2 separate regions of the Homo sapiens genome follow, and region 1 is linked to region 2. Evidence: fine-mapped expression QTL. A gene starts in region 2. The other region holds a variant in brackets. All regions are shown on one strand. Distances are from middle to middle.

Region 1 (4,387 bases), 78 kb after region 2:
GATCCCTCTGATAGGAAAAGGTGTAAAAATAGATGTTTTGCCAATGAATATGCCTAAAATGCCATCAGCATATTGAATTATCCCCAGATGGTAACCCAGGAACCACAATGTTGAGTGTTAAATGTGCGTGCAGGTAAGAACAACTTAAATCCCAGCAAAAATGTTCTGAGCACGGGGGAAGGGGGTTGGAGGAAAGAAAAAACAGGCCACCAGACTGAAATTTGTAATCTGCTCACAATTTGTTACTGGTTCCCAGGCATCAATTGCAAACCCTCTGAGCCACCTAAATGATCATTTTAAACAATTTAAATCCAGAGAAAGAGACTGACCCTGTTAACCTTGGTAAAATGAGCAGGGGACATCACTGGCCTAGAGAATGAAGATTCCACACCAAAGAATAGTAATTTCCGTCCCACCCATCCCAGGCTTTGAGATGTCCCTGCAGAACATTCCCCATCAATTGCTCACAGCTTTCCCCTTTAAAATGCCAAATCTAGATCTTATCGCAACAACTGACTGCAAGCAAGAGGAAGGGAGGGAGGTCTACTTGAGTTTCTGCTTCCTATAACCAAGTCTCAGCAGTATTTCTGATAAAGGGCTAAAGAGAATTGCTTTATCCACACAAGCAAGAACGTTGATAAGAAGCCTTGCTGGCTTCCCCAGCGCGCTAGGATTTCTAGCTGAGCCTGAAACCTTCACACAGTGATTTTGTTTTCCTTCAGAACCATGCAATACCACACATGTATATATGTATATGTCTATTCATATATATTTATTTAACAAAACAATGGGCAGGGGAACGATGAATGCCTTCCTTTTTCATAAACTTTTATTTCCAAACTGATTTCTTTTTTTGCATTAAAAACATGTTACAGTGCATATTATTTTAACTCCACAGCATCTGTCAGAGAGATGTTCTCATCTCTCTGATTTACAGACGGAGAAATGCAGAGGCTGAAAAGTTTAAATAACTTGCCCAAGGTCAGTCAGGGACAAGATAAGCGCTGGCTGAACGCACATCTCCCAACTCCAAGCCTCACCCCGCTAGAGGAGGACTTAACACCCGCGTCCCTTCCCCTGAGTGGTCGGAAGCGAGGGGAATGTTTCTAGAGTCCCGAAGCTCCCAGATCCTCCCAAATTTTGAAGCGTTTTTCCCGCAGACACCCGGTTCCCGGGTTACCCGCGGCCCGAAACCCCGCGGAACATCGGCCCCTCAGGAGCGGCGCGCACGGCCGCCGTCTCCCTCCCTTCCAGACCCCTCCGCAGAGGCGAACCCCGAAGTTTCCCCGGGTGTTTCGACGGCTCCCTGGGCCCCTCCCTTCCGCCCCGCCGCCCCAGGAACCCGCGACGGCCCCAGTTACCGTATGCGGTGAGGGAGGCCATCCTGGCCCGCGTCCTGCCCAGACTGGCCAGGGCGTCGGCTAGAGCGGCCCCCTGCGCGCTGCGCCCCTGGACGGCCCGGCCCGGCGAGTGCATGCGCTTGGCTCTAGCGGCGCCCGGGCGCTCCGCGGCTGAGCACGCCCAGTCAGCGCGCCGCGCTCGCCCCTAGAGCTGCCGGCGCGCGGGGGCCCCCGGCCGGGCTGCGCCGCGAGAGCGGCAGGAGAGAGGGCGTAGACCGGCAGCCGCGCTCCGGGTCCCCGCGGGGATTGAACCAGCCGCGGAGGACGCGCGGCCGGGAGAGGGGAGGGGCGAAGCTGGAGGTGGGAGGTGCCCGGCAGAGGCGCGCCGCGGATTTGGCCCAGCGCAGCCGGCGTCGGGCGGGATCCCCGGTGGGTTCACGCCAAAAGGGGTGGCAGGGATGTCGTGGCAAGGGTCGGGGAGTCCCAGGCGCGCCACAGCCTCTCGGGACGGTCTCCTTTCCTAGGGAAGCTCCACTGGAGAGCGCGCCGGGGAACACATGGGGTGGGTCTGGCCGCCCGTGACTCTGGGCGCGATTCCCAGCCCAGGGGACAGTCTGGAGAAGGCTTTGCCTGTGAGACCAAAGCACAGGGGAGAGTAGCA[A/G]CCTTCTCCTGCGCACTTCTATTAGTGAAGTCGGTGACTACTAAGTACCGAACTCTGACCCCAACAGTTCAGACCTGTCCCAGTACATCATCTTATCATCTCTGTTTGTGTTTCTGTCTTACCACGAGGCGCTCACCGGTGTCCTATTCCTGCCCAGCATCTGATGAGGGCGCGAGCTCACACAAGGTTGAGTGATGGAATGTCCGAGCTGGTCTCAGCCCGCCTTCCCTATTGTGCTGGGTCTCCGTCTAGAATCAGCTGGCTGAGGAGAGGGAAAGGAGTGGGAGAGCGAGAACGAGACCCAATAAGTCGGTGGCACCCATTGCGGGATGAAGCAGGGGAAAGAGGAAGGCCGCCCAACGCCTCCTCGGGTCAGGTGCAACCCCGACCCCGTCCCTTGCCGCGAGGCTTTGCCATTCCCAAGTGTAAAGTTGAGACCACACCAAAAGGAAGGCCCAGAGGCCTCCTGGCTCGGGGTCGAAGGTCGTGATCACCAGGCCTTGTAAAACGCCCGCGCGGGAGGAATTGGGGGGCGATGGTGTCAAGGCATTAGCTGCATTTGGGGTTGCGCCTACTCGGGTGGAGGCACCGAGGGCAAATAAATCTGGCGGAGACAAAACTCGGCGTTTGTCTGGGAAGCTTCCCGCGCTCTCCAGCTCTCCAGCCGTCAGAGTTGGGCGCTTCCAACCTCCGCTTCCGCCTGCCTCCCCACTCTTCGGTGAGGGCAGCCAGGCGGCGGCGGGTGACCGGTGGACGAGGCTCTAGGATGTAGTGTCGGGGCCCACACTTACCCATGTGAGCGCAAGGCTGAGACTGCGGCCGACAGGAGGAGCCAGCCCCTAAGGAGGGCCAGGTCTGCCCAGGATAGTGGGAGCGTGGGATCTGGTCCTTTATTGGCCCTCGGTCAGCCAGCCAGCAGCCGGGTGACCCTTGGTTAAGACACCGTCTCTAAGGTTCCATTTCCCCATCTGTAAAATGGAGCTAAGCATTGCAGCTGTGCTCACCTCGCAGGGCGGTTGCAGGGATCTGGTGGGACAGGGACACTATCAGAACTGAGGCTCTGTCTTGGTGGCTGCTCCCTGCCTTGACCTTGCCCCTTGAGGGCCCCACTGGCCTCTCCCGCAGGTTTTTTTCAGCCTCACACTCTACCCAACCCCAGGCTGAAATTGCAACCGCCCACCCTTGAGCCTAAAGTGACTGGGAAACCTGCTCTCAGCTCCTGCTCTCAGCTCCTGCTCTCACCTAGCCTGGGGGCCGATGCAGGCCAGGCTTGCCTTCCCCAAGCGCTCCAAGCCTCCCCCAGACCTGGGCAGCGCCTTTGTTCTCCCTTCACCATCCCCACACCTCAGCAGCCCTGTCTGGGCACTCGTCTTAAAGTCTGTTCCACCTCTTGTGCCCCTTCCTAAGCCTGGAGATGCTTCCCCAGTCTCCTCTATGCCCGCGCTGGGCCCCAAGGCCGTTTGTAACTTATCTTCTGACATCCAGCGCTTTCTCCTCCATTTACCATCGCTGCCGCTCAGATGGAGTCATGAGGAAAGGCCATCACAATGAGTTACGAATTGCACTTTAATTCTTCTTGGCAGTTCTTTCTAATTAGCAGGAACCAAAAAGTAGCATTTAATTAATTAACCTCTCTTAAGGCTACCTGAACTTGTCCCCACATAACACCATTACAAGTCCTTGAGATATTCAGTGCCACAGTAGAATTAAGACTGAGGGGACCTGCCTGTAGTCCCAGCTACTCGGGAGGCTGAGGCAGGAGAATGGCATCAACCCGGGAGGCGGAGCTTGCAGTGAGCCAAGATCGCCCCACTGCACTCCAGCCTGGGCAACAGAGCGAGACTCCGTCTCAAAAAAAATAAATAAATAAAAGACCGAGGGGACCTGGCCTCTTTGGGAGGAATTGACAGACAAATAAACCTCCTGCCTTCATGGGTTTAAGAGCCTTCCAGTTGTTCTCAGCATCTGTGTTGTCAGGTGGTAATGAGATCTTTAAGCCGCTACCTGTGTCCTGGTCTGCAGTGGGAAGGGGTGGTCTCCACCTACCTCACATTCTTGAGGGGGACAAAGGTTAAGGAAGAATTATGACACCAGTGATGAAATACAGGGTGTTACAGAAACTCCAGGAGGAACAAGTGGTTCTGTCTTAGCAGGATTCACACACGACTTAACTAAGGCAGTGACATTTGAAAGATGAGGTCCAGGATTTGTGATTTTGCCAATAAAATTTCATAAAGACAAGCTTGTCATTCAAATTTCCTTATGTTTTATTCATTCTCCATGTTTTCAGGAGTAAAATATGAACTGCCACAACTTTGATGAAAGCTGTGTTCTAAATCTTCCCAAGAAAACACTTTTTTTCAGATGATAGATTGAGAGAAACTAG
Region 2 (4,387 bases):
TGTTCTAAATGATTCTGAAATTGCCTGCAGTGAGAAATACTGAGTCTATTTCCATGACACCCAAGCTGATTCTAACACTTTCCATCTTAATGAGTATCCTCAGTTGAGTTACCAGGCACTATATAACATCCTTTCAATTAGAAAAAGAGAAAAAAAGATTAAGCAAAGTAAGAACACACCATTAAGGATGAAAGTAAACAGCTAAACATTAAAGAATTAAAGAGGAAGCAGAGCAGTCTGACAGTCAAATTACAATACAGTATTGCCGCGAACCACAATCGAGTGTAGGGAAGAGTGGATATTAGAACAGCTAAGCCAAGCAATGCTGATAATATTTTAAAAATTGTTTTGAATTTTTTTTTTTTTTGCTGTTAACCTCTGTGCTGGTTTTACTCTTGAACAGGGCTAACATGTAAACATCTACAAATTCTTGTTTTTTATTTAAACGTATGCTTTTACAAATGCAAGGAACCCTTCACTGAAATAAAAAACAAACAAAAACAGAACAACAACAAACGCATCTACTTTGGACCCAGAGAAGAAGGTAAAGGCATATGTCTGATGTCATCACCACTATTTCAAGAAAAATCCACATGAACAGGGGACATAAAAGTAGTGAAAATGAGCAAGCAGTTAGGGAACTTTACATTCCAAACTCCCAAAGAGCAGGAGGAGAGACTGGAAATTTCACCCCACATTCTCTCCCCTCACTTATCACAAAAAATCACATTGTATTAGTTCAGTACCTTATGAATCAGAGACTGAATTACATTTGGCAAGAACCCTCTCTAGAGTGAAATGGACCAGAATGGAAAAACCTACACAAATAAGATAACCCACCTCCGGTCCAAGACTTGAAAATAACTAAATAGAATTACAACTGCGAAGCTATTCTTTGGAATGATGCTTTGACCAAAATAGTTCGACACACCTGCTACCAAAAAAAAAAAAAAAAAATCCCTGTTAAGAGAGACTCCTGCAACGCACAGGAGTGAAACTAATAAAATGTTCTTGGTTTCCTTTGGGCGTCAAGAAGCTGCCAGTAATAGACTTGAAGTTGTGATGCTCTTTGCAGCAAACCTCAGGAGACCAGGTGAAAAATTAGAGCACTATTGTAAGAGTAATGTCCCTGGAATAAACAATCTGCCACATCCATAGTCTTCGTCAGAAACCTGCTTATGTTCTCCTAGAAAAGTCTAACCATTCTAATAACCTCAAAGTATTTTATCTCCTAGCAGGAGGACAAAACTATGTTGTCAACTCAAAAATGTTCCTGTCATCACTGCCCTACCACTCTCTGAAGAGCCTGTAAAATATGGTTTGCAGAACTGGGTACCCTGAGACTCAGAAGGGAAAGAAGCAATGAGGTCATGCAGTCTACTCCGTCTGCCAGCTCAGGATTCCTCCTGCTGAGAATGTTCCTGCCCAAGTTGTAAACCCCACAAGATATAGGGTCATCCCAGACCCACACGGGCAGGTGCAGAAAACACAGCTGCCCACAGCAGACTCAACATAACTCACACGTGTGTGCTCATCTTTATCCACAAAGATGGAAGAGTTTGCTATGTGGGCAGGTCACCCCCGGCCCTTCTGATCCTGAGTGAGTGCCCCTGGCACACTGAGGATTCATCCTGCCCAAATTTGTCAGTCATCCTCCACAGATTCCCTGCACGCTGCTGCAGTTTACCATCGTGAACACATTTCCCCGGCTGCTGCTTCAAGGACAAAGACAGAGCACTTATATTCGTATCACAGCAGAAGAGCTCACGTTTATGGAAAAAAGATAAAAAGACAAACACTCCAGGCAAATGACCCCTGGCATTTTTGAAGCTGGATCATCCCAGACAAGATCCATGAAAACAGAGGAAATGCAGAAGGAAGGTCACTAAGCTTAGCTGGGAAGAGGGGGAACGAACGGTTCAGTTCACTGCAGCAACAGAGCAGCTCATTCAACGTAAGCACTTACCATAAAAATAGAAAGAGTCAACAGAAGGAGAAGGGATCCTTCCTCAGTGCCTTGGTGTCTTCGGCAGAAAGAAATCCACTGTGAACCTCCAGGCTCCAGTCGGGAGGAGGCCAGCAAAGTGATGACAGGCAATAAAACCACCACACACAAGTCCTTTTCAGCCTCCCCTCGGGCCGTATGCAGTTGTTTGTGCTGTAAAAACCCTGAGAAGTCTGGAACAGGACTCTCCGGAGAGCGAGCCGGAGTGAAAGCAGCCTGGTGGATTTCACCACCGTCTCAGAGCATCACGCCCAGGACTGGTCCTCCCCCTCCCCAGGTGCAGGGGAGGCATGGTCGGGGGAGGGTGGGCACTAGGCTGGGCTAGGAAAGGCGAGAAGAGGGATGAAAAGGAGTCTCTTTAGAGTGGAAGGAACTGCCGGAGAGAACATCAGTATTCCATATCAGTTATTGCCAGCGACCAATCAGCCCAGCCAGGGGGCCGTGTCAGTGTGACAAGAGAGCAGCAGATGACAGCCAGTTCTGAGAGCGGCAGGACAACCCCCTGCCTGGAAAAGAAATTTGGGAGGATTGGCAACTTATCCTCTCCACTGCTGCTGTTAATGTTTGCTTGTATTTAACAAAGATCTAAAGCCCCATAGTTACACTAGCCATGCAGGAAGTTTTTGAGGCATCCCACAGCATCTCTGCAAGAAGCCAGACTTGAAGTCCCCTAAATGATGTCTGATGGCATGTCACAGTCCAGACAGCCCTACTGATGTGCCTTCAAGGGGTCATCATGAGTACAGTAATGGCGCTTTGGACCTAAGCTTCTTTATGCCCAAAGTGCAGGATAAGATGACCAGTGACCCGGCTTTCTATTTCAGAAGTGAAAAATTTAAGACAGAGAAGGGTCAAAGGTCTCTCCAGGAATTTGACTGTCAATCTTCATTAGTTTTCTTGTATAATATAGGTATAGAAATATTGTTAGAGGTGAGCTTCTGAAGATAGTTAACATGTCCCTTTTAGAGCTCTTAAATCACCTATAAGACAAAATATGTGTTTGGGATAAACAATAATAACAATTCATAAACACACTGAAAATTGAGAAATTCTGACTTACACTAACAGAAGGAGCAAAGGAGCAAATCTCTTGGTGATAAATGAAGGATGCGTGGAGGACTCTAAACTTTTCCTACTTCCCTTTTCCCCTATTCTAATATTGAACTTATAAACTTTGTCCATATATATTAATTAATTTGTATTTGGTTGTGATGATTACATTATATAGGGATGTAGTTTCTGAAGTTAAATGCCAGTTTAATTGGACTCCACAGTAAAACTTCAGAACTTTTTGTAAGATGGGGAGATTGTCTTGGGCCACCTTTTTATCACTGCAGAAAAGATAACTCCCTTTAGTCAGTCAAGAGTTAACAGGAATATACAAATGCCCTCGGGTTTTGTTTTCTGTTTTTTTTTTCCAGGTGACTTACATGATGTAGAGTTTTTAATTTTAGTTGTCTGTTTTTACCTAGAAGTTGGAATACCATTTGCACATTTTGCTGTGATCTCTACCCGTAGGCAAGCTGACTTTGGGGAGCCTGAATACCACAGCTTAAAAGGAAGGGCTGAGCTCCAAGGAAGCAGATAACTCAGCACCAAAATGAGTCACAGCAGAAGGCCATAAAAAATGTTCCACATCAAAGATGAACATAATAAAGTGAAATTTTTTAAACGAAGAAGAAAGGATAGTTTGCCAGGGAAGTCCTTGTAAATTATATAAGGAAAACCTGGGAGACTTTGATTCTCAAATGCTGTTTTGTTATTCTCCTCAGTTCAACTCAAATCAGCAAACATTTGAAGAACATCAATTATGCATCAGGGCTACAGAGATGAGTCCTTGCCTTCAAGAAGTTTACAGTCTCATGGACAAATTTAAATCTTCTTCTTGAAATTTCAACACTATGATTCTTGCCAAGACAGAAAATGTTCTACTATTTTAATGTTCTTCAGATTAAACCAATCCATGAGGCTGGACTTTAGCCTCAAAGCTCTGAATTAGCCTAGTTAGATGTTTGTCATAACCGAAGCCATTCAGGAAATATAAATGCACAAATAATTTCTGAAATCGAATTAATATATGAGAAGGTTCTTTAACTGAATGTTTGTTTTTATCTGCATTAACGGCTTCTGACACTGTAAAAGCATGGGCAGCATATCAAGAATATACTTAATAAGGGAATATTATTTAAAGCTCCTAAATGAATTGAGATTAATACTGTTGATGAAACGGGTTCATACCTTGAATACACAGCATTATAATGATGCATGAAATGGAAAATACTGCAGAAATACAAATTATCTAGTGGATTAAGTAACTGCACATCTATATGACAATTGATCAATAAAAATAGGTATTCCAGTTATTAACTCAAACGCCATTAA

Evidence for each region. PIP is the estimated chance that this variant, and not a neighbour inherited with it, causes the effect. A credible set is the group of variants that fine-mapping cannot tell apart.
Region 1: its variant is the best candidate, but not a certain one, in a credible set for the expression of ANO4 in subcutaneous fat (GTEx, PIP 0.64).

The regions. Positions count from the first base shown.
Region 1 is chr12:100,714,522-100,718,908 of GRCh38, reverse strand. It overlaps a transcript of ANO4 not described here. Among named protein-coding and RNA genes, the nearest start is that of ANO4, 78 kb to the left of the region's middle. The variant A/G (reference allele first, on the strand shown) is at 2,002.
Region 2 is chr12:100,792,607-100,796,993 of GRCh38, reverse strand. ANO4 (anoctamin 4) reads right to left here and starts at 2,218. Exons shown (of 28, transcript NM_001286615.2): 1 at 1,967-2,218.